Regions from separate parts of the Homo sapiens genome. Here regions 1, 3, 4 and 5 are each linked to region 2. Evidence: fine-mapped expression QTL. A gene starts in region 2. Each other region holds a variant in brackets. All regions are shown on one strand. Distances are between the middles of the regions. Region 1 holds the start of EOGT (EGF domain specific O-linked N-acetylglucosamine transferase). Region 2 holds the start of ARL6IP5 (ARF like GTPase 6 interacting protein 5). Region 3 overlaps TAFA4 (TAFA chemokine like family member 4). Region 4 overlaps ARL6IP5 (ARF like GTPase 6 interacting protein 5). Region 5 overlaps FRMD4B (FERM domain containing 4B).

The links. PIP is the estimated chance that this variant, and not a neighbour inherited with it, causes the effect.
Region 1: its variant is fine-mapped to the expression of ARL6IP5 in sun-exposed skin (GTEx, PIP above 0.99).
Region 3: its variant is fine-mapped to the expression of ARL6IP5 in minor salivary gland (GTEx, PIP 0.94).
Region 4: its variant is fine-mapped to the expression of ARL6IP5 in whole blood (TOPMed, PIP above 0.99).
Region 5: its variant is fine-mapped to the expression of ARL6IP5 in blood mononuclear cells (TOPMed, PIP above 0.99). The same link has a PIP of 0.9 or more in T cells, monocytes and whole blood.

Annotation. Positions count from the first base shown.
Region 1 is chr3:69,011,104-69,016,207 of GRCh38, reverse strand. It overlaps EOGT (EGF domain specific O-linked N-acetylglucosamine transferase), which reads left to right and starts at 2,524. Exons shown (of 18, transcript NM_001278689.2): 1 at 2,524-2,634; 2 at 3,409-3,693; 3 at 4,217-4,272. EOGT-DT (EOGT divergent transcript) reads right to left here and starts at 3,088. Exons shown (of 1, transcript NR_185971.1): 1 at 1-3,088. RefSeq lists silencers at 2,297-2,596, 2,657-3,206. The variant C/T (reference allele first, on the strand shown) is at 2,763.
Region 2 is chr3:69,082,917-69,088,020 of GRCh38, reverse strand. It overlaps ARL6IP5 (ARF like GTPase 6 interacting protein 5), which reads right to left and starts at 3,084. Exons shown (of 3, transcript NM_006407.4): 1 at 2,798-3,084. The coding sequence starts at 2,973. RefSeq lists enhancers at 3,004-3,313, 4,921-5,080.
Region 3 is chr3:68,871,963-68,877,066 of GRCh38, reverse strand. All of the region lies in intron 3 of TAFA4 (TAFA chemokine like family member 4), which reads left to right. Among named protein-coding and RNA genes, the nearest start is that of TAFA4, 58 kb to the left of the region's middle. The variant TTTC/C (reference allele first, on the strand shown) is at 2,974.
Region 4 is chr3:69,103,604-69,108,707 of GRCh38, reverse strand. ARL6IP5 (ARF like GTPase 6 interacting protein 5) reads right to left here. Exons shown (of 3, transcript NM_006407.4): 3 at 2,616-4,244. The coding sequence ends at 4,072. It overlaps LMOD3 (leiomodin 3), which reads left to right. Exons shown (of 3, transcript NM_198271.5): 3 at 1-2,643. Among named protein-coding and RNA genes, the nearest start is that of LMOD3, 16 kb to the left of the region's middle. RefSeq lists an enhancer at 3,689-4,888. The variant G/A (reference allele first, on the strand shown) is at 2,586.
Region 5 is chr3:69,175,503-69,180,606 of GRCh38, reverse strand. FRMD4B (FERM domain containing 4B) reads left to right here. Exons shown (of 23, transcript NM_015123.3): 22 at 3,951-4,083. Among named protein-coding and RNA genes, the nearest start is that of LMOD3, 55 kb to the right of the region's middle. The variant G/AG (reference allele first, on the strand shown) is at 2,289.

The sequences.
Region 1 (5,104 bases), 72 kb after region 2:
TCCTTGCCCATATAGTCATTTTAAATGTTAATCTACTTGTAAAATAATAATTAGTAAATATATATGTGTATACACATGTATACACACATATTCCTCTTAGAAAAATGATATTTACATATTACATATCCTTTTCCCACTCAATATTCTGTAGTGTACAGAGATATTTCTCAATTCCTTTTTATGCATGCATAGTTTTACATTGTATGGATAAACCATAGTTTATTCAACCAGCCTTCTATTGGTAGACACTTGAGTTTTATGTCAGCTCAAAGAAAATTTAAATTCTAACATTGGTATTTTGGAGAGAAATTCTATTTGAGAATGGCTGTTACAGTAAGAGAGACTCAATCTCATGTTCAGGTTTATCATATCTGGTTTCCTGTAAGTCTGAATGACCATTCAATATGTAGGTGTTTAAAATAGCACCACATAGCCAGGCGTGGTGGCTCACAACTGTAAACCCAGCACTTTAGGAGGCCGAGGCTGGAAGATCACTTGAGGCCCGGAGTTGGAAACAAGTGCTGGGAACATAGCAAGAACCTGTTTCTACAAAAAAAATAAAATAAAATAGTACCATGCACATGTCATACTGATTTTAACCTTTTTGTATGTGACAAAAATAGGATGGTAGCAAGTAGGCTGAGGAAGCTTTTTTTTTTTTTTTTTATGAGACAGGGTCTCACTGTGGCCCAGGCTAGAGTGCAGTGTCTCAATCATGGCTCACTGCAGCCTCAACCTCACTGGGCTCAAGCGATCATCCTGAGTAGCTGGGACTACTGGCATGAGCCACAGTGCCTGGCTTGAGGAAGCATTTTAAAAAATTACTGTCATTAGTGTGGGATGGTGAAGTATGCAAAGTATAAAATAATAGAGCAGTAATTCTGTTATAGGAAAGGGGTCCCAATCCAGACCCCAAGAGAGGGTTCTTGGATCTCGAGCAAGAAAGAATTCAGGGCAAAGTGTAAGCAAGTTTGTTAAGAAAGTAAAGGAAAAAAAAAAAGAAAGTAAAGGAAGAAAAGAATGGCTACTCCATAGACAAAGCAGCCCTGAGTGCTGCTGGTTGCCCATTTTTATGGTTATTTCTTGATGATATGCTAAACAGGTGGATTATTCATGCCTCCCCTTTTAAGACCATATAGGGTAACTTCCTGACATTGCCATGGCATTCGTAAACTGTCATGGCGCTGATAGGAGTATAGTAGTAAGGACTACCAGAGGTCTCTTTCATGGCCATCTTGGTTTTGGTGGGATTTAGCCGGCTTATTTACTGCAACCTGTTTTATCAACAAGGTCTTTATGACCTGTATCTTGTGCCGACTTCCTATCTCATTCTGCGACTTAGAATGCTTTAACGGCCTGGGAATGCAGCCCAGTAGGTTTCAGCCTCATTTTACTCAGCTCCTATTTAAGATGGAGTTGCTCCGGTTCACATGCCTCTTGACAGTTCCCTTAGAGGCAAAATCTTTTCAATAAAAAGAATAAATTAATACTGTAAAGTGCTTTAAAACAATGTTTGGCACATGTTAAACACCACATGTTCTTGCTGTTATTATTTGAAAAAAATTCCAGGTAAGATTCCTAATTTAGCAGGTCACTAATGGAACTTGTAACAATTCTTAAACAACATTACTTTTAAAAATTACGTAAAAAGCATGTAAGCCTTTGGAAACAAACTTGTTTCCTTATGATCATATTATTTAACTTCTGGTGACTATATTCATTTGAGCATGTTTATTTTGAAGTCATCACCTTCATATAATCAGTTCAACTTTAGTCACTATTTAATGATCAACTCTACTGTGCTGTAGATGGAATACTAGGCCTGGGGGAGCTTAGAGGAAAAGACAGTGGGGGATGGGAGTTCAAATAATTATAAGCAGTAATAAAGTAAATTAACAAAACCATAAAAATTAAACTCCACAGAGTAGCATTTGAACTTGATGAGTTTACGGATAGGTAAAACTATACTGCTTTTAAAATGTGTGTGGACTCCAAAGTATCCTCACCATCACAAAGTGTATTCGGTGAACGATGTTCAGTCCCCAAATTTGGAAGTTAGGGCGGCAACTTCTGCTTGAAATAAGACAAAAGTAAAAATCCACCTCAGTGCAACGCAGAAGACACGAAGAGTCAGGTTTTCTACCCACCCCGTCCTAACATCCTCTGAGCGCTTTAACGCTCTCGCTCAAGGAGGCGCGGGCTGCTGCGATGGAGATGGGCGTCCGGCGCCGGCACGTGCCGTCGGTCTTTCCGGCCCTGGTGAGGGAGCTGGCGGACTCGCGCGAACGTTCGCGGGAGAACGCCAGGAAGGGCAGATGGTTCCTCGACTCTGAGCCCCTCCCTGCTGCGCTCGCCGGGTCGAGGCCGCTCGCCGGGCTGAAGCCGCTCCGAGCGTCGGGCCCCGCGCCCTGGCCCTCCTGGGTGTAGTCCCGGTCCTGCCTCTGCGGGGCCCGAGCCCGCCCACGGCGCCGGCTGGCCAAGGTGTCCCAGCTGCTCCTTGGCGCCCCCTGGCCCAGCTCCCGCGCCCGAGGTTTCCGGTGAGCGGCAGTAGCCGGTTATGACGACTCCCTCCTCTGGAACAGCCGCCGTCTCCTCCGCCTCCTCCTCGGTAGTTCACGGCTGCCCCGGCTCCAGGTGGGACTCCCCCGCAATCTGCGGAGCCTTCCCCCGCTCTCCTTCCCGCCGCCGCAGCGCTCTGCGCTGTTCTTGCCCGGGTGGTAGCCGCTCCCGGCGCGGCTTCCCGGAGGGCTATAGCCTACGCA[C/T]GCACTCCGCCCGCGCCTTCCCATTCCCTGCGGGCCGGGAGGCGGGCGTCGGAAGCCGATCCTGGCCCTCCCCGGCCCCGGGCGCCCGGCCCCTTCCCAGCGCCCGGAGCGCAGGCGGGCCCCGGGCCCTAGCCGCGTTGACCAGGTTTCCAGCCGGGGCGGAGCCGCTCCCCGGGGCCCCTCCCAGGCGCGCTGGGGACCCGGGGCGCCGCGGTGCACGGTGGCGGGCGGCCCCGGGAGATCACCGACCCCGAAGCAATCCCTGGCGGCGCCCGGGGTCCGGAACCCCAGCGCGGCGTCTCAGCCGCGGCGGGGTGCTCGCCACTGACCCCTCAGCCCTTGGCCGGGACTGACGTTCAAGCGGACAGCTGGGCTCTGCCGGGACTGACGTTCAAGGGGCAGCCGAGCACTTCCTGAGCCCTGCCTGGCACCCGCCGAGAGACTTTTTGGCACAAGTAGGGGCCAGCCGTTGAGGTGTCATTCGGGGTCTCACGTGTTGAACTTTCCATTTGCCCACTGCCGTCTTTAAACTTTTCCAAGCTCTCTCTCTCTGCGACATTGCCCCATTTCGCCCGCTGTGTCAACCCCAGGTTTTGCCTCCTATCCATCATCTTTCAGATGTTTCCCTTTTTTCCTTCCTCATTAGGCCTGTGGAAATCGAATCAAGGGTTTCTGGAGTGGAGTGATTCCAGCTGCTTTGAGCTGAAGGAAAAGTAGCCTGGCCAGTAAAGCGTCCGTGTGCTGGAGGAGTGCAGCCACCCATCCCGGCGGGCCTTGCAGGACGACCGACACCAGGAAGGCTTTGTGCCAGGCCCAGCAGCCACCCCCAGCCGCCTTATGCAAGTGGGTACATGCCCTCGCCAGACGCCAGCTTTCTGATCTGCGTCTTTAGATTTTTTCCATCGCCTAAGCGTTACTTCTCCACTGATCGGTGAGTTTAGTGATGGCCAGAGCTCACTGGAGGACAATGGACTTGGATAACCAAAGGTCAGGGCTTGGTCATAACAATGACTTTATTACCGGGAAGGACGAGTCAAAAAATAGGAAGGCCTGGGAACCCTCAGGCTCGCCACTCTAGGTGGGTAGCCCTGTGATTCAGCCAGTGGGATTACTGCTGTGAGAATGGGAAAGTTGTTTGCTTCTGGGAATGTTTGATCCACTAAGTATCCTGTTGGCCAGTTCCAGTGGATGCCTGTAGAAAGTGGGCCACCTCCTCCCGTTCCCCATTGGAATCTGGTCCGAGTTGCTGTGTTGGGGGTGGTGCCTGTGAACTCGAGTATAGCAGTGTGGTATTCATTAAGGAAAAGAAAGCGCACCACCGGCCAGGCCTTCTGGCTGAGAGTTATCACGTTACATTATTTTCTTTCTTAATATTTCCTTTAATTCACAACATCATCTGAATGATCAGGTTTACTTTAGCATCCTTTTAAGGTAATATGTTTCATTTCTGACAGGTTTTAGAGACCTGAAACATCACAGAAGCTTCTGAGTGGTTCTGAAGATTCAAGAGGTATATATTTTTATTACAAGTAGAGTCATTGTTACTATTAATATGTGTTTTTAAATTTTTATAAAACTGCTGTCAACTCATTCTTGGATAAAAGCTCCAAGTGAAAATGTTATTGTAATTCAGATCAGATTTACAGCAGATAACACCATACTCTTGAGGGCCGCCAAAGTGAAAAACCACAATACTTAACTACTCCAAGGGGGGAAAATGGGGGAAAAAGGATTCCTTTTTGGTGTCCCCACTGTTCACTTAGAATTCCATGGCCTTGGAACTTGAGGTTTGATGGAACATAGCAGTCAATTTCCTTTTCTTCTTTCTTTCTTTGTTTTTTTTTTTTTTTGAGACAGAGTCTCCCTCGCATTACCCAGGCTGGAGTGCAGTGGCGAGATCACGACTCACTGCATCCTTGACTTCCCAGGCTAAAGTGATCCTCCCACTTCAGCTGGGACTACAGCTGATTTTTTGTATTCTTAGCAGAGACCGGGTTTCATCACGTTGCCCAAGCTGGTCTCGAACTCAGGGACTCAAGCAATCTGCCAGTCTTGGCCTCCCAAAGTGCTACTATTACAGGCCTGCAGTCTGTTTCTAAAGGTTCCATCTTCACAGCCCATAATCAATGAAGACTGATTTCGAAAGTTGGGTTTTCCGGTATGACCCAGGAAACAGCAGTCCTAGCTGATGAACATCCAGTGTGTATTAAGACTCTGTCATCCAGTGGAAAGAGCACTTAAAAAAAAAAAAAGAACAAAGATCCCACTAAAGTGACCTGAGAATGGCAGGATCATTGTCTGGGATATATAGGAGAAATCTGGTCCAAGAGATTTAACACTTA
Region 2 (5,104 bases):
GCAGGTAAAATACTTTGCAAGGTACCTGACACACAGAGCACTCAATAAATATTTATATTATTAAATGATAAAGAAAGAAAAGAGAACAACTGGTGGAAAAAACTACTGACTGTGCTTATAGTTGCATAGAAAACAGTTAGGGGTTATATACCAAACTTTTACTGAAGTATGAAGGAAATTTCACATTTTATCCACATAATTTTCAAATCAACCTTTACTACTAGCCTGTATCTTTTGTAAGTTTTTAAAAATAAGGATAAGTTTTAAAAACTTCATGGCTACTTTTCACTTTTTCACTTCAAAATTTTCATTGACAACCAACAACTCTTATTTGAAAGGAAAATGAGGAGGGCCAACACCCCTAAACTACCTGAGTTAGTGGCCTAAGGCACAATACTGACGGAGCTATATTTAGTCAAAGGGCTGGCCCCTGGCCTTCACAGTGAAAAATGGATTCTATCAAAAGCAGCAAGGCTGTCTGAGCTTGTGCCTGGTCTGGGCAGCACACATGTCTGAAGAAAATAGACTTTTTTTTTTTTTTAATTATTGGTCTGTGTCAAACTTTGCCCCACATCTAAGTTACCTCAAGAAAATACCTCCATAACTAGATCACCAGATAAGATGCCCTCCTGCTTCTTTGCAAAGAGAAAGAAAAAAACAAAAATTGATGCAAACCTATTTACTACTTATTTTGTTTTAAAGACTTTTTTGGCCAGGCACAGTAGCCCCCGCCTGCAATCTCAGTGCTTTGGGAGCCAAGGTGGAAGGATGGCTTGAGCCCAGAAGTCAAGACCAGCCTGGGCAACATAGTGAGACCCCATCTCTAAAAAAAATTAGCCAGGCTTTGTGGCACGCACCTGGGGTCCCAGTCACTTGGGAGACTGAGGTAGGTGGATTGCTTGAGCCCAGGAGGTTGAGGCTGTAGTGAGCTGTGATCACAATACTGCACTCCAGCCTGGGCAACAGAACAAGACCTTGTCTCAAAAGTAAATAAATAATAAAAATTTTTAAAAAGAAATTTTTGGCCAGGCACAGAGGCTCACGCCTGTAATCCCAGCACTTTGGGAGGCTGAGGCGGGCAGATCACCTGGCCAACATGGTGAAACCTTGTCTCTACTAAAAATACAAAAATTAGCTAGGCATGGTGGTACGTGCCTGTAATCCCAGCTACTCTGGAGGCTGAGGCACGAGAATTACTTGAATCCGGGAGGCAAAGGTTGTAGTGAGACGAGATCACGCCACTGCACTCCAGCCTGGGCGACAGAACGAGGCTCAGTCTCAAAAAAAAAAAAAAAAAAGAAATTTTTTAGTGTTCCAGGAAAGCAGCCTGAAGCACAGAGCTGAGGGAAGGTTCAGAAGGCAGCTGCCTCAGGCCTTGGGCCTGCCCCACCCTGCCCTGACTAACTTGTACCTTGGCTGCCACACTAGTTCCGAGTCCACTCAGAGCCTGTGCCCTCTATACACCAAGCCATTCCCAGAATGCAATTCCTTAAGAATTCCTTAAGCAATGCAGAAGAAGGATCTGTGCGATTGTGTATAGAGTCCCACATGTGGGCTTCCACCTCTGCATGGGGGTGATTGCTGTGAACCATACTCGGAAACTGTGAAGTCTCCCCCTCTCCTCTGTGCTGTGTGTTTGCTCCTTTAGCTTCTCAACAACTGCCAGGAGCCCCTGGGCCAGAATTCAAGTCTGATTCATCTTGGTGTGCTTGGAGCTTGGCATGGGGCCAGGCACAGAGAGGTGGCTCAATGTATAAGCCAATTAACTGCGAGCCAACTGAAGAAGCCACCCTGTTCACCCTTTCCCACACCCTTCAAGTGCAAATTTCTCCCTTTTCTCCCAAGCCAGCTTGCTGCTTCTTCCCTCTACGTCTGCCCTGAAATAGAAATGTCAGACATTTAAGTGCAAGTGAGTCCTTTATAAAGTCTGAGGGTGGCTTTTTCTTTAAAGATGTGTAGGAGATAATCAGCAAGATTGAGAATATCACCACCCATCCTGCATAAGCGAGAGAAGCATTTCTTAAAGGGTGAACTAGAAGGAAAGGTGGTTTCTAGGAAAGCAGGTGTACATGCAGTCTCAACACAGGATACTTTGTTAAGTATCAGGTATTGAAAAGGCCTTCTGATACATTGAAACCTCAGGCTAGGAAGCGAAGACAGAGAAAGTGACCACGCCTGGCCACTGCTGGAAGAAAATGCCAGAAGGCCATCTTCCCACAGTCATGGCAGCCTTTACCCCACAATGGGAGATGCGCCACCAGGAGACACCCCCCCTTTTGATCCCAAGCTCAGCTTTACTGTACAGTGTGGCAGGCATTAGGCAGAGAAAGCAGCAAAGTGCGTCGCCACTTGGTTGCCCTTTTTACACTAGCCCGGGTCCACACCCTGCCGCCCCAGCCAGCTCCAGGGTAGGGTTACACCACTTTCCTTTTTCTTCTTATTTTTAAAAGACGAGGGCGCTACAAATATCTTTCCAGCAAGAGCCCGATCCTGGCACGCGGGCGGGGGCAGGGGGGTGGGGGAACTCTCATTTTTCTTCCCTGCGGCTGGCAAATTTTCCCCGTCCTCTTTCCCCTAGGGCCCCCCTCAAGTCTCAGCCCTTGGTGCAGAAAATGGGGCCCCAGGTTACTGCGGCCTCGCCCTGCAAACAAGTTTCCACTGGCTTGGCCGCTTGCAGAATTGCCAGGGCAGGCGCTGAGCGTGGTCAGAGAGCGTCTCTACATCCCGGGATCTTGCACCCCGAGGCCCCTCCGTGCTCGCCCCGGATCGGTGTCCCGGGTAGGGGGACCCCACTTACCCCACAATGGAAATCATCATGGCAGCCACCACCAGGTAGTTGGTCTGGTAATAGAGCAGGTTGCTCACTACGCGGTTGTTCCATTTGGAAATGTCCCTGAAGTCCGGCCGGGCAAAGCGATCGGAACCCGGGAAGAAATCGTCCCAGGCGCGGAGTGGGGCGATATTAACGTCCATGTTCTCAGCTTTGCGTTCTTCGCCTCCAGAATCTGGCGGCGGCGGCGGCGGCAACCGATCAGCTGAGCTGAGTTGGAGAGTTGACAGCGGCTCCGTCTCGGTCGGCTTTGCGGTTGGCAGACAGCAGAGCAAAGGAAATTGGGAGTGGGCGGGCGTGTTTGCTCCTCTTTACTTCTTCATTGGCTCTTGGTTGGGTACAGGAAAACAGGAACCTCCAGACAGAACAAGGGACTGAGTGCAGAATAGAGACGAAATGACAGAAAGCAACTAGCGGAAATCCCCTGTCTGAAGGGAGGTGGCAATGCCTTCTCTAGCAGCAGAGAAGCTGCCTCCTTCGAAATACCTTTTTTGAAGGTTTACCTAGGAGTGTGTTCTCTGACTTAGAGAAAAATTTTGGCAGCTGTGCAGATGCCAATCTAAGTGAAATGAAATGGAAGGCGACTACAGTGTTAATGGAGAATGAGCTGCTTTTGAAAACTAAGTCTTACTAACCTCTACACATCTGAATGCAATTCCCATGTTTTCTCTGTTTCACCATGAGTCACTATGTGTGAAATCAGATTGGCAAAACGGGAAAGAAGGTCATGTAGAACAGAAGGGCTGGTCTGTTTTTTTCACTTCTCTTCTTTGTTCTCCACCTCTGTTCTCTCTAGGCTAAATTGTTGGACTGCTATGCCATTCTGATAAAGTAGGCACTCTGGCCACTTCAGTCCTGAGCTGGGCATGTTGCTTACATTTTAAAGCAAACAGTTGTCTGCAGTGAACTAGTTGTTCTGCATCCAGCATTTTCTGGGCAGAAATATGCATTCCACTTCAAAAGTTTTCTTAGTTTTATTGCAATATTTGGTGACAGCTTTCACTGAGGGACCACAATATATTCATAGATAACGTGATGTTTTGTATCCCAGCCCAAAGACCTGGCAAAAGAAGTATTCGTTGTCAATTCTCTTCTAAGCTTCCAAGGGTCATCTTTTTTCAGTTAAGGGGCTGATTGGTACAATGCATGAGAAAAAAAGTAGTTTGTTTAATTGTATAATGTAATAGGTAGAATTCTAAGGTGAAGATTTCTAAGATAACAGAGTCTCTAAGCCCCTAAGTGGCTTAGACAAGGTGAATTCACTCTACTCAGATCACCAATTTTTGAAAACTTGGAAAGTAATGAAATATACTAATGCAAAGTCTAGAAAACATAATTTAATTTTCCTTATTAATTCAGAAGACAGTTAAGGAGCTTACAGCGACTCTAAGAAATTACTACTACTACTGTTGTTTAGGAAAATTTGGTGATTGCATGGAATTAGTGCTAAGATATATCTTATGTGCTGCTTTTTGAATAAAGTTTAAAATGTGAAAATATTCCTGAGTGCTCATGTTTTCTTGATTCTGGAAAAATGGGATGGTGTGAAGTCAGAGAAAGCAAAATTAGAGTCGCAGCTCCTTCCTCTCTGGCAGGTGACTTTGGAGAAACTACTTAATCTCTCCCAGCCTCGGTGTCTTCATGTGTAAAGTGGGGATAATGGAACATCTGCCATATAGACGAGGCTAAGTGAAGGAATGTATAGGAAATGCTTAGTGTATAATAAAGGTTCACAGTTATATGTTACTATTATTGTTATTAGCAATAGGATAGCCCACGATTCTTGTTTGCTATTAATAGTGCTTTAATCTGATTTGTTTTCTATGCTTTCATTATAAACATCTACTAACTTTTCTCTACCTTGCTCCAACTTTATTGTTGTGGATGTATCTGGGTAGGGGGAAAAGGTTGAGAATATTCAGTACAATGCCAGCAAGTATTTCGAGTTCTTTTGAGGCTCTGTGAAAGCACTGTGGGTTTTTTTTCTTTTCTTTTCTTTTTTTTTTTAAAGAGGAGAAAAATGTAATCCTGCTCTGCCTTCAAAACTTCTGCAATCCAGTGGAAACACTAGTTAAATATGAGACAGTAAGAGGAGTGCTAAATAGAGATGCACTGAGCCTCAGTGCTCAGTTACAGGAAGTCAGAGGGTGTGGAGGAATTCCCCAGGGCTTCAGAATGTCAAGAGGCAGCACTGTGGGCAAGCTGAGTAAATCATCTTGGTCAAGATGAGAGTGGGAACTCCAGTGGGGCCCCACACTGTTGGTGAGATTTATG
Region 3 (5,104 bases), 210 kb after region 2:
GATTTTATTACTCATGGCAGAGGAAGCAGCATGAGCTTCAGTTTTGCTTCAGTTCTTCTTTCATTCTTGGGCAAGTTATGAAACCTCTTCGGGACTCAGCCTCTTTCTATGTAAAATGAGAATAATAAAAATAATAAAAAATAAGTCTCACGGTTATAATAAGGAATCAATTAATACCTGGGAAATGCTGAGAACTGTGTTTGCTTAGTGAGTGCTCAAATGCTAGTTATCCTTATTTAGAGCTGTCTTCTTCTTTTGAATGTTATCTGTTTTGTAGAGGTTCTGTACTGTTCAAATTTATGGAAATTTAGGTTTTCTGTTTTTTTTTCTGTTATAAATGATTATGCAAAATATGCATGTTGTGATTGTGTGTTTTGGTGGTTTATGTTATTTTTAACTTAGGGTAAATTTTTTGAAGAGCAGTTGTTGCATCCAAGTTTGATCCCATGTTTTCTGTCCCCTATGATGGCTGAAATTTATAGGAACCCTGCAAATACTCTTGACTAAATAGCATACGCTGTTTTAGTTCTAATTTTCTACAATAAACCTGGTAATTTCAAAAATACTAACTGAGTGGGGAATATAACATCTACTACAGGAGTCTCTCTGAGGCTTAAATTTGAGATAACATTTGTGAAAATGATAAAATTGTATGTACAGGCGGCTATACTTGTACTTTGCCGGCAGAAATGAATTGTACTTAACACAGATGCGTTTGAAAAATGATTTGCCTGCATTGCCTAAGTTCTGACACTAGGGGGTAGGCAAGGCTTATCATAGCTAAATAGAGCCACATGTAATTTTGCATGTTATAAAGCTGCGCTGAAAAAAGTAAAAGGCAACAGAGGAAATTAATTTCACTAACACATTTTATTTAACCCAATATATTCAAAATATTATCATTTTAACATGTGACCCTAGCCACGTTTCAAGTGCTCAATAGTCACATGTGGTTAGAGCCTACTATGATAAGTCCCATGAACTAATAATGAGTTAGGTCTTAATGTTGCTTTTTTAAAGATTGGAATTATGGGTTATTTTAATTTTCATGGGTCAGTCATAGAGCACATTGTTTTATCTCTCTTTATTTCACTTAATTTCTTTTATGTTTTATTTAGTTATTTAGTTCTCTCTCTCTTTTTTTTTTTTAAAACAAATGACTACTAAATTTAGAAAAAGTACCAGGTAAGTGGGATTCGTAACCTCAAGTAATAAAGAATGGGGAAGAGTTCTGTTTCCTGATGAATAGCTTATGCTGTTATTCTCTGCAAGAGCATATTTTTAGGGAGAGGGAAGTGGCAAAAGTAATTTGACAGTGTGTGTGTGTTTATGCATGTGATATCAACCATTAAGTCTTAAAGTTACCCACTAGCAAACTTATTTTGATCAATAATGAGCACTTACCCACTGGGGTAAGTGAAACCTGATGATACCATTTTAATATGGTTTCTCCTGTACTTTTCTCTATCTTCCTTCTTCCTGTCCCACTTCCAGTGAATGGTTATTTCAGTAAATCTATGGATGTATTGCTATGCAGGCAACTCCACAATAGCATACACTATTTTATGAGCAAGAAAAAGAAAAGACTGTGGAATGGTTTAAAGGTCCTATGTTTTGGTAGCAATGGAAAAAGGCATCCATAAGATAGTGGTTACTTTATTCTCTCCCTGGGGAGCTTTTGCACGAAAAACACAGAGGGCCCACTGCAGCGAGATTCCATCTGAACCTTACAAAGTAGAGTGCAGGCACCTGTATTATTTAACAACCGTACTATTGATTACTCAGACCTGCAGCCAAAGATGAGAACAAATGATTCAGAAGTTAAAAAAAAAAAAAAACTGGAAGTTTGACTCTAGCTCCTATCAAGGTACAGTTTGATGTGGGTGGTGATGTCTCCATTTCAGTCTTGCTATGACATAGTTAGGCTGAGGAGAGTTGTCACCCTGTCAAGGTGACCTCCATTTCCACCTCTTGGGAAGGACTGTGAAAATACTTACTCATTTTGTACCAGCTCAGCTTTTTGAATGCTAAAAGCTTCCATGGTGAGGGATTCCACTAGCCTCCGTTGTACCCCATATTATATTTCTTCAGTGCCATCTTGATGGGCTCAGCTTTTAATAAGAAGGGAAAGGAACACATTATATGCAGTGTTCATATTTGGCTTCTTCTCACCTCCTCAGCTGCAAGTTCAAGTCCCAGTGCCACTGGCAAGTTCAGCTTTGTGAAATGTCTGACAAATGAGCATGCTTTACATCCTTTGTGTGTGTGTGTGTGTGTGTGTGTAAAGAAAGGGTTGTATTACTGACGGGAGTAAAGAATTTCAGTTCCTCAAATGAGCTTGTGAGCCATCCTACTTGGCAGAGTAGGCTTTTTCACCCTTCCCTCTTTGAGTCTTTAGGGCAGAACAGGCAACTGTCTTTGAAGAGTTCCTCGGGTAGTTTGGGAAAAGATTCTCCTTACCCTTGAGAAGAAATTTCCCTTTTTCTTCTTTCAAGCCACGGCCTTAGACTCATCTAAACAAAGCCTACAATTTGGGGTTTAAAAAGCTACAGGTCAATACCTCATCTGTATGCCAGTGCTATACGAGGAAATTGGAATCATTTGTTCCCTATAAGGAAAATAAAATCATTGGTAAAAAGAAACAGCAGGGGTAGAGACGGGGCAGGAAGAAAAATGACGTTTTGTATTTTCCTAGGTGTTGCTTGGATGCTTTAAATATTTTGGTCCATATGGTAGTCTCAGAATAGAACACTGGAAATAATATTTTTGAAGGGACATTTAAAAACCCATTACAAAGGATTGATTGTGAGAAGACTGTGTTTGCAAGAGTTAAAAACAATTTGACTACTAAGGCCAAGTACCATCAATGCTTATATTTTAGGGTATGTCTGAAATCAGATAAGAACTATAACTAAGTCCGACAGGGTTAGAAGGGCCTGAGATTGTTGGGTGTCTCCAACTGGGCTCTGTTTT[TTTC/C]TTAGCTGTTGGGGATTGGGTAATGGGATCCTAGAAGCAGAGAGGGAACAATAGAGAAATTTGTTTCAGGAAAAATATAATATAGGCATGAAATGAAAGAAGTGAATAGCAACAGTGTTGTTAGCAGCAGGCAATTTTTCAGTAGCTCATCACTGACATTGCACAGCTACCTGGGAAAGGGCTGGGAATAAATACCAGCCATCCAAGGGTGTGGGAGATTTCAGCAATCCGAACTTGGTTGTGCATAAAGGAGTCAAGAGGTGTGTCTTCTTCCCCAAAGTCAAACAGTTACAGATTTTGGAAAAGTCTCCTTTGCTCTGGAAAGTCTTATTTGTTGTTTAGAAAGCATTTGCAAGAAATAGTGGGAGGCTTGTCTTTCAAGTGGCACTTTCAAAGGCTGGTTGGATTTGAGCTAGAGAAATGAACATGTGAACATGTTGCTGTTTTCTGCCCTCCCTGCAAGTGTCCTGTGGTCATTTTACAGGCTTTTCAAGTAAGTGTTGCCCCGTGGAGGACAGTGATTTCTAACTATGCATAGTCTATATGTTTGAGCTGTTGCCGGCTAAACATATCCAATAGGAAATAATACCCAAATTGAAAGGGAGAGAGCAGCTATTAATATGAATTACTTGTCTAGTTAGTTGCTTTCAGGATACCATCTAGAAATTGGAAACATTCACAGAATGGCTAGGTCAGCATTTTTCTGGCCCAGGGTGTGTGTGTGTGTGTGTGTGTGTGTGTGTGTGTGTGTGTATGTCTGCGTGTGTCTGTCTGTTGTGTGTGTGTCTGTGTCTGTTTCTATTTGTCTTCTCCTGGAAAACAAGTATGACGTTGTTTGATCTCTCCAGGTGAGAGCAAGGTTGTTAGCCTCTCCTACCTTATGTTGTACTGATCTGGAATTTGTTTTCTAATGAGCCTGATGCATGCCTCATAGGTGTGTGACACATCAGAACCTGGATTGTTTCTATAAGTCACTGAGACCTAAGTTTGAACCCTACTAATTTTAGAATTTGTAATGGAATGTGTGATGAAAGATCAGCCTTGAGATGATACGGCTGATATTTACCCATGCTGTCTATGAAAAGGGATTTGCTAAGCAAATAAATGGTGTAAATATATTTACCAAGGAGCTGTTCACGTTATCTTAAAAAATCGTCAAGTGCTTTGGAAGCATTTATTTAACATGAAGTCAAAATGCTTGTGCCTTCTCTCTGCAAAGTCCTACCTATGTGACCCTGGGCAAAGTTATTTAATCTCTCTGAGCCTCAGTTTCTTCTTCCTGGAAGTGAGTATTACAACATCCCCTACCTAAAAGTATTTTTGTGACATGAAATGAGACAATTTATCTAAAGAGCTTGGTATTATGTCTGGAATTTAATGCATTTTCTTATTTATTATTGCTACATAATAGTTGTGCATATCTTTGGGGTACATGTGATATTTTGATACATATATACAATGTGTAATGATCAAACCAGGACAGTTGCAACATCGATCACCCCAAACATTCACCCTTTCTTTATGTTGGGAATATTGTGATTCCTCTTCTCTAGCTATTTTGAACTAAAACTAAATTATTGTTAACTATAGTTACCGTACCATACTATTGAACACTACCTCATATTTCTTCTCTCTAACTGCATTTTTTTAAACTATTAACCTCTGTTCATCTCTCCCTCCTCCCAACCCTTCCTAGCCCCTGGTAACCACCAATCAACTTTCTACCAGTATGAAATCTACTTTTCTAAGCTCTCACATATGAATGAGAGCATGCAGTATTTATTCTGTGCCTGGCTTATTTCAGTTAACATAATGACCTTCAGTTACATCCGTATTGCTGCAAATGACAGGATTTTATTCTTTTTTATGACTGAATAATATTCCATTATATATATATATGTACCACATTTGCTTTATCCATTCATCCAGTGATGGACACTTACGTTGTTCCCATATCTTGGCTGCTGTAAATATGGCTGCAATAAACATGGGAGTATAGTTATCTCCTTGATATTCTGGTTTCCTTTCTTCTGGATAGATATCCAGCAATGGGATTGCTGGATCATTTGGTCCTTTTAGTTTTAGTTTTTGAAGGACCACTGTATTGTTTTCCACAGTGGCTGTACTA
Region 4 (5,104 bases), 21 kb before region 2:
CTCCTTCCATCTCTTCTGCGGTAATTCATCACATAGTATCTTAAAGGGAACAAATAATGTTTCATCCTATGGAAATGTGAAGGATGAATTGAGCTCCTGGCCCTTCTGATGCTTTGAAATGGAAGGATTGTTCCTTAGAGCTTCTCTGCAGAATCAGTGGAGATTTTCAGTTTCCCACCCTGCCTGGCTTTCTCTCTTGGTGACTCCCTTGGTGTTTTGGAGTATTCTTTCTATAGGGGTACCTGTGAGGGGCAGAACACGTAAGCCACAGAACATGGTGAAAACTAAGTGTCACTAGGAAAAGTAATGGGAAAGTAAACCCTGCATATATGAAAACTTCCTGGCAGCAAGTTTTCATATATAGAGGGACAATGGGAGACAGCATGCTGTTTTTATAGAAAAGAAGTTTTACATAATATAGTTATTGACAAGCTTTTGGTTTTGGCTAAATACACACACACACACACACGCTCATATGTGTTTACTCTGTAAGTCTAATTTGATTTTATCACTCTCAAACATATTTTAAAGGAAACTTGCTTACAGGAAGGATTAAACTTGAACTACTTATCCTATTCTTTAAGGCACTCCATTGCCTGGCCCCAATTTACTAATCCTGTCTTATTTCCCACAAATCCTTTATACTCTACTCGATGAAACATCCTTGTGCACACCCTTGTGCCTTTGCTCGCATTAATCCTTCCAAGAGACTTCCCTCCTGTTCTCCATTAATGAACGTCCTACCCAGTCTTCAACTCCCGGGTCAGATCCTGTGTCCTCCATAAAAAATTTTCCAGACAACTCCAATCTGTCCTTCTTCCAAGTTCCTAGAGGCCTTAATTATTCATTCTAGCCACTAGGTGCATAGAATTTGAGATTTTTGTAATAATAGAAGTAGTGTGAACCCTAGAAATTAGAAAATCAAGCTTTGGGCCAGGTGCGGTGGCTCATGCCTGTAATCCCAGCACTATGGGAGGCCAGGGAGGGAGGATCTCCAGAGGTCAGGAGTTCGAGACCAGCCTGGCCAACATGGTGAAACCCCGTCTCTATTAAAAATACAAAAATTAGCTGGGCATGATGGCAGGCACCTGTAATCCCAGCTACTCGGGAGGCTGAGGCAGGAGAATTGCTTGAACTGGGGAGGCAGAGGTTGCAGTGAGACAAGATCACGTCACTGTACTCCAGCCTGGGTGACAGAGTGATACTCCATCTCAAAAAAAAAAAAAAAAAAAAAAAAAAAAAAAAAAAAAAAAACCTTTGGTGCCTTTTCTCTCTTCTTTACCTGAGTAAATAATTGGCACCTGCCTTCTTTCTCCTTTTATGTTATCATAAGTGGCATGTATCAAACCAAACAGGCTAGGGGAGAATAGGTCTAATTGTGACAGACTTAAAAACAACACATTATTTGGAAAGACAAGCCATGGGAAAGAAATATGGCGTTTCTATTTTTTTAAGATAATTTAGTATGTACAAAAGTATCCAAATTTAAATATAGTTTTCAATGGCTGATAGTTTTGTTTTCTCACCCTTCAATATTTCTAGAAAACATCCTTGCATACAAAGCAGGATAGCTAAGAAAGGGCTGTAACAAACAAAACTTCAAGTGTCTAGCACATACTACATCTAAGAGGCTAAACTCTGATAGGAAAAGCACTTTAAACATAATTAAAAGCTTAATGTAAATTAGTAGTTGAAATTCTAGGCCGGTGCGGTGGCTCATGCCTGTAATCCCAGCACTGTAGGCGGCCGAGGTGGGTGAATCACATGAGGTCAGGAGTTCAAGACCAGCCTGACCAACATGGTGAAACCCCATTTCTACTAAAAAAAAAAAAAAAAAAAAAAAAAAATACAAAATTAGCCAGGCATGGTAGCTCATGCCTGTAATCCCAGCTACTTGGGAGGCAGGAGAATCACCTGAACATGGGAGGTGGAGGTTGCAGTGAGCTGAGATTGCACCATTGCACTCCAGCCTGGGCAACAAGAGCGAAACCTCATCTCAAAAAAAAAAAAAAAATTCTAGAAAGCCCCTATGCATTTGTTTGTATAGCCACAGTATTATTAAAGTCAGGAATTTCAAAATGCACAGTAAGAGGGTTTTTATCTTAGATATACAAGAAGAAAAGATGATCCAATTTCATAGCTTATGGCCTCAATACACAGGTTTTGCCAAAAGAGGTGAAGCAGTTCACATTATGCTTTTTCTACCACCCAACCCTAAAGATCTTAGTTGCAGATTTTAGCTTGTTTTTAAATGTAATCATAATTTACAACATTTATATGTTACATTTTTCTGTTATTACCCTTCCAGAATTGACTACTGGCCATTAGTAATTACAGGTATCTTTTTTTTTATTAGTTTCTCCAAATTTATTGGATTTTATCGGCAGAATTCACCTTGTAGAAAATGGAATGGGCTAACATGTATATAAAACTGGGCTAACATGTATATAAAACTCGTGCCAGGTTTAAAAATAGGATCCCACTGGAATTGTTTTATTCTGGCTGCAAGTTAATAAAGTATTCAAGCTTTACTAAACAGTATTTGAAACAGCTGAAGTGTTTGCTTCACTGTTTATAGGGTCGTC[G/A]CCAAGTTTCTCAGGTATTTAAGACAGATGTGCATTAAATAAAGTCTCACCAAAAAAACCTTTAATCAATTTTATTCTTCATATGTGGGTAAGGGTACAGATTCTAGACCATGTCTGTGAAGTCATGGTGATATCACTGTGCTAAAGATCATGGCTGTAGGTTGGCTGAGAATTTAAAATGCAAGAAAAATCAGAAGCAGCACATCATTGCTTCTTATTCTAGGACATACAGAGAGTTTCTTCAGTAAGTACCACTCCAGTTGTCTTCACAATTTAATGCTACAGAAACCTAAATGTTTCTACTTCAGCTACGAAATCATTCAATTGGCAGGCAAAACATTTTTTATTACCTATTTATAAAAACATGAGAAAGGGAGGAAAAATAATAGAATGTATAAACTCATGCTATCATAATTCTAATGTCTAGCTATAAAGGCATATGGTTGTAACAATTGCTATCTAAAATTTTTTATTAGCTGCAGTAGCTGCATTCCATTTTCATTACCATTTTTTAAAGTCTTTTTGCTTGGTCATCTAAAGACGTTTTTCAAATTTCAAAAGATCAGCTATTATTGTCCTCCTTGTGCCCCTAAGGAATTAATAAAATGCACATTCATTTCCTTCTTTCTAAATGTTCCAGTTAAAAACGAAACAATGCAAAAATGGCAAACATTTTCTTGGACCATTTTTTTCACTGTAACAACAAAAAATGTGCAAGGTAAATAGAACTCAAGTTTTGTTTTATTTTTTGTCTGTTTGTATTTTAATAAGTCCGTCCAGAATAATACAGGTTACATAGCTGTAACCATCTTAAGGAAAATGACATTAAGTTTGCAACAAATACTTGCTGGTGAAAACACATTACTAGCATTTCAAAAATTTACAAAAATGTAACAAAATATCCTAAACAGCTATCTTTATATTTGTAAAGGAAGTATGAACAACTGGCTTAACCAGTTTCCACTGCACATCAAACAGGTGGCAAAGTGATAGAGATCATCTTTGATTTTTAAGAGAATAATAAAAACTAATTTATATCCCACACATTACAATTCTAGGGGATTAGGAACAGGCTAACACATGATGTCATCTACTTTAACAGCCTTTTCATTTACTCGTATTGTCTTGATACTTTACAATGATTTTTTTTTTCCTATAAGATAATCGTATTGTTGCTGTAAAAGCCGTAATTCTTTTATTTTTTTTAATTCCCTTAAAGAAATCGTGTGATCCATTTCCCATTAGATTTCATAAACACACGTGAAACTTCAGACACAATAGGAGGGTGGTGGTTTTCTTTCGGTTTCTGAGGTCTTCTCTCTGAAACATCAGAGCTGATAATAGTTCGGCCTATACATGCATGCTGCCATAGATAATTGGGTGGTACGTGCACCTCCTGTTTCAAAAACGCAAGCAGAACATAGGTCTGGACAAGGGCAAGCTGCAACTCAATTTCTGCTGCAACCCTAGCTCAGGTAAGTTATGTTTATTCCTTCACTTTGCTGATATAGTCAGTGAGTCTGTTGATGCCTTCTTCCTGCTGTTCTAGGGCATCCAGGACAATGCCCATCGGTGTCCTCTTCAAACCTATTCCTTCCATTTTATTCTCCAGTTTGTTCTTGAGGTTCCGAAGTCTCAACGATGCATGGATAAACATCACTGCAGAGAAGGGACACCTGGTTAACACCAAAGCAACAATTCTCTTTTGCCATATCAATATTACACTCCCTCTCTTCACACTATTAGTAAACTGCCTTAGTTAGCCACAGTCCAGTCTGCTTCTCGAATTGATGCAAGCTTTCAAATGGCTCCTTGGACTTTATGTAAAGCTCTCCATCAAGTCATACATAGTTTTTTTTCTGCATTAAAGGAAAATGCTGTATTCAACAGGAAGGACCATTATCTGGAAGCCACACCCTTTCCTTCACACACTGATATCATCACCTTGCAGATGCTACTTAAATGTCCTGAAATTCAGAGTGAATCAACGGGATTCCATCCTACTTAAAAATCAACTTACCCGAGGCTTTCCAGAAAAGAACTCTTGCTCGATTCGGGATTATCTGTATCTTGTTCCCTGCAGGAGCACGTGAGTAAAGTCCACTTTTAAAGTGCCTCCCGGAGGCTTTACCCAAAGTGTTGGGTATAGAATTCTAGATGTAAAAATCTAAGGGCTTTACAGAGTTTCTATAGCCTACCGTTCCCCAAACTTGCTTGATTATTTTACCACAGATTCCCTATCCCCTTTCCTGGACCTCCTCCACCTGAGCCTTAAAGAGACAGGCCTGGGAATCTGTATTTTAAACAGGTAACCCTCTCTCCATATGATCTATACCAGTGGTTTTACAACTTCCATGTACATTCAAATCACCTGGAGAGCCTGTTAAATAGGCAAATTCCTGGTCTCCATCACCCCAAATTCAGACTGTTACAACTGAGGGAAGGCTCCAGAATTCATTATTTTAATAATCACTCCAGATGATTCTGATGTAGGTGGATCTTGGACCCTTATTTTGAAA
Region 5 (5,104 bases), 93 kb before region 2:
TTTTTTGTTTTTGAGAAGGAGTCTCACTCTGTCGCCTAGGCTGGGATGTGTTAGGGGTTTCACTTGCTTTGTCTTTTTAGGATTTACGTTGACAGGCACATCTCTTAAATGTGTTCACGTCATTGAGGCTTGATATTTTAAAAGAATAAACCCTCAGGTAAGCAGAAAACATTAGAATTATACATCCCTCCTGGTTCACCACCAAGATTGATCATCTAAGGACTGCTTTGAATGCAAGCCTGGGATTATGCAGGTACTTAGGCAAGTGCCTGCATAAGGCTCGTAAGAATCCTTATAGGAGCTGGCATTGATTAAGCACTGTTCTAAGTAATTTGCTTTTTTTTTTTTTTTTTTTTTTTTGTAGAAACAAGGAGGCTTAGGTTGGGTCTTGCTATGTTGCCCAGGCTGGTCTCAAACTCCTGGCCTCAAGCAACCCTCCTGCCTTGGCCTCCCAAAGTGTTGGGATTACATGTGAGAGCCGCAGTGCCTGGCCATGCATATTGTAATTCAGTATTCATATATACCTATGTTGTGGTTGACTTAAGGGATTTTCAAAGATAATTTTGATTAGAGATGTTTCCTTTATACTCTTGATGTTGACTTTGGCCCCTAACTCTGCTAACATTTGTGGAGGACTTCCTGCCTACTCCCAGTTGTACTAGGTACTTTAAGTAGAGAAATAGAAGATAGGGGAGGCTCTGTGTATGGTTTTATTTATTCAGCAAATGAGCAGCCACATTCAAGATGTGGAGGACCCATTGTTGAACTAGTTCCTGGCCACGATGAGCTCAGAGTCAGCAGCCAGAGGAATGTTTAAAAATTAAGCAATTTTAAAACGCTAAGAAATGAATGAATTCTCAAACTGCCAGAAAACCTGTAGGTCATGAGTCTCACCTTCTCCCTTATTAACATGACACCTTAGTGAGACATAGTATAAGGATTCCTGAGTCATTGTATAATAGTCAAGTGAAAACTACACCTTTAAAAGTTTCATGTACTTGTTGATGAGGCGTTTCCATGGAGATTTCTATTTGGGTTCAAGTTCTCTCCTATTTGTGCAGGACTTTGGACTTCCACTAGGGCTGTCCCATCTATTACCACATCTAACATATGAAAGGGCTTCGGTAATTATTTCTTATTTATGGCTCTGACCTAGAAAACACCTTTCTTCCTCTTAAAGTTCAAGATGTGAGAAACTTTCACAGGTCAAACCTGGGCAGAACAGACAGAGTACTACAAGGGAAAGACCAAACAAGGAGGGCTGAGATGCATGTGGATGGTCACTACGGCACAGGGCTGGGGTGGTGCCTGGGGGAAGCAGGTGTTAACTGAGGAAACTCAACATTCCTGGCTGCTAGCTTAGTAAAGGTGAAATGGAGGTAAAGCTTCCTGTTTCAGACCTGGTGTGAGCCTTGCTGACACCAGCAAGATGTGGCCCCACAGACCAAAAGGCATCACTCTTTAAAGAACTACAGGGGTGGAATCAGTACTCCCAGAATTCCCTGCTGGAATTCCCCTCATTTCTGTCTCCACTTTAAAACTGCAGAAATGTATTACAACAGGCAGGCGTCATTCTCATGGAGTGATAAATTTCCAGTTATTTGCCAGATTAGTCCTGGCATTGTAGTCCCTTCCAGCCACCTGAAGGATCTCTCGGTGACTCAGTTTTAGTAATGACAACTACCATTTGTTGGCAGCTTACTAGATGCCATGCACATTCAGAACATTACATGCACTCTCCTATTTAATGTATGCAACAGTTCTATATAGTGATTGCTATTGTTATGCTTATTGTTATCATCCTAATTTTGCAGCTTAGGCAACTCTGGCTACAGAGTTTAAATAACCCAAGTTCCAAAGCTACTAAGTGGTGGGATGGGGATTCTGGGGATTCTGTCCTAGCTCAGCTCCTTTTTTTTTTTTTTTTCTTTTTTAAAGAGACAGTCTCAGTCTGTCACCCACATTGGAGTGCAGTGATACTATTATACCTCACTCAGTCTCAAACTCCTTGGCTCAACGCGATCCTCCCTCCTCAGCCTCCCAAGTAGCTAGGACTACAAGTACACACCACCATGCCTGGCTAATTTTATTTTTTTGTAGAGACTGGGCTCTGTTTCCCAGGCTGGCCTCTAAGCCCTAGCTGCAAGTGATCTTCCCACCTCAGCCTCCCAAAGTGCTGGGATTACAACCATGAGCCATCACACCCAGCCCCACAGCTCTAACATCTTAACCACCAAGGCTTAGAGCCTCTGATTTCAGTTTGGAAATGGCTTGGAAGCTCAAACTCA[G/AG]AGTGTTACATCTGTTAGTCAACACCTCATGACATCCAGGGCCACAGATGAGTTTTGAAATGCGTTTGTCCCATAGTGATCACAGGCACTTTGTGTGTATGAGAGAGAAGAGGAGTAGGTCTGAAGCCAGAAACAGGAAATGGAAAAAGGGCAGTGCTGGTTTTTGAGTCTTGAACGAGTATCATGGCGTGTGGTTATCTTGTCCATCCTAGGCGTGGAGCAGAACTGGTTTTATAGAGAGGACAACAAACGCCCAGTGATGAGGCATTTGTTGGGCTTCGCTCCCAAATTATGTCCTTGTCTTGTTCCAGTTCAGTTCCTCTGTAGAACTAAATCCCTTCTTCCTGAATTCCTTCCTGTGCTACTTACCACCTCGCCTCTTCCCCCAATCCACACCCCAACACATACACACTTTTTTTTAAGACAAAAAATAGCCTTGATCTTGCTAGCGGCCAGTGTTGTCTTTGGCTGAGGAATAGTCAAGTCTCAATAAGTCAACTTATGGAACACATTTCCTCCAAGGCCTCTGACAAACCCAGACTCATCACCTTACCTTTATAACACCATAGCGTGAATGGGAAGATTCTCGCAATATATGAGAATTGTTTTCTTGCTTGTCTTTTCAGTTATTTTAAAAATTATTTATGTGTTATTATTATTTTCTTTCTTGGGATAGGATCTCACTTGGTGGCCCAGGCTGTAGTGCAGTGGTGCAAACATGGCTCACTGTAGCCTTGACTTCCAAGGCTTGAGTGATCCTCCCACCTCAGCTTCCCAAGTTGCTGGGACTACAGGTGTGCACCACCATGCCAGGCTAATTTTTGTATTTTTTGCAGAGATGGGGTTTTGCCATGTTGCTGAGGCTAGCCTTGAACTCCTGGGCTCAAGCGTTACTCCCACCTTGACTTCCCAAAGTGTTGGGATTACAGGCTTGTGCCACTGAGCTGACCTGAAATTATTTTTATTTATTTATTTATTTTGAGACAGAGCCTCACTCTGTCACCAAGGCTGGAGTGCAGTGGTGTGATGTTGGTTCACTGCAACTTAAACTTCATGGGCTCAAGTATTTCTCCTGTCTCAGCCTCCTGAGTGGCTGGGATTATAGGCATGCGCCACCATGCCCAGCTAATTTTTGTATTTTTTGGTAGAGACAGGGTTTCACCATGTTGGCCAGGCTGGTCTTGAACTCTTAGCTTCAAGTGGTCCTCCCGCCTCGGCTTCCCAAAGTGCTTGGATTACAGGCATGAGCCACCACACCTGGCCCCAACCTAGATTATTTTTTGAATTGACAAATTTATCTTTCAATTAATCTTATTCTCAATAATAATATTAATAGTTATTTACTGAGTACTTTGTATCAAGTACAGTGCTAAAGATTTTCATAATTACCTTATTTAATCCTGGCATCATACCTATACAGAATATATTAATATTATTATCCCTACTCTATAGATGAGGAAACTGAGGCTTAAAGAGGATAAACTACTTGCCTAAGGTCACATAGCCAGGAAGTCACTAAATTGGAATAGGAACTCTGTTATTTCAAACCCTCTTAAATTTCTCCTCTGACAAAGCTGATTGCAATGTACCTCTGAATGACCTTAACAATTTTTCACTTTTAATATTTCCATTAATTTTATCTTTTTCCATTTTTATTTCCAGTGTCTTCTACAAATGCTTCTGGGAACTGGAGGACCCAGTTAACCATAGGGCTGTCGGATTACGAGACTCCAGCACATTCTTCTTACACCAGCTGCTATGGCAATGTCTATAATCCTTTACCCTCTCCAAGCAGGTGAGGAAGCAATGCTCGAAAATCCTAGGAGCCTGTTCCAGTTCAAAAGAATTCAGGGATCCTAATTTACAAACGTCAGATAATCTAGTTCAGGGGTTGGCAAACTCTAGCCTGTGGGCCAACTCCAGCTGCCATCTGTTTTGGTAAATAAAGTTTCATTGGAGAATAGCCACCCTCATTCACTTACATGTTCTCTATGGCTGTTTTTGCACTATGAGGGCAGAGCTGAGTAGTTGCACCAAAGCCAAAAATATCTGGCCACCATCAGCCAAAAAGTATCTGGCCTTTAAGAAAAAGTTTGCTAACCCCTAATCTAACTCATTCAGATTTGACCCTGGTCTTCAGTATTACATTGAATTCTTGTATATTTCCTCTAATGTTTACAAAGAACTACTTGCACAGACACCAAAGCCAAAAATATCTGGCCTTTAAGAAAAAGTTTGCTGCCGGGCACGGTGGCTCATGCCTATAATGCCAGCACTTTGGGAGGCCGAGGCGGGCGGATCATGAGGTCAGGAGATCGAGACCATCCTGGCTAACACGGTGAAACCCCATCTCTACTAAAAATACAAAAAATTAGTTGGGCATGGTGGCGGGCGCTTGTAGTCCCAGCTACTCGGGAGGCTGAAGCAGGAGAATGGCGTGAACCCCAGAGGCAGAGCTTGCAGTGAGCCCAGATCGCGCCACTGCACTCCAGCCTGGGCGACAGAGCGAGACTCCATCTCCGTCTCAAAAAAAAAAAAAAAAAAAAAAAGAGAAGAAAAGAAAAAGTTTGCTAACCCCTCATCTAACGCATTCTGTTCTTTAGTCTGTACATTGAATTCTGAGTCTGAAGCTTTTATTTTTTAAATTATGGTACTTGAAATCCTATTAGTGATATGTCCATTTAAGTCTCTTTTGAAACCTTGCAGGAAAAATCTCTCTACTCCAGGAAAGGCTGTTCATACCAAGGTTCCTTAGACAGTTGGTAGGCTGGATTTCAAACATTTGCTGCGTTTTTTATCTGATCCTATGTTTGTTA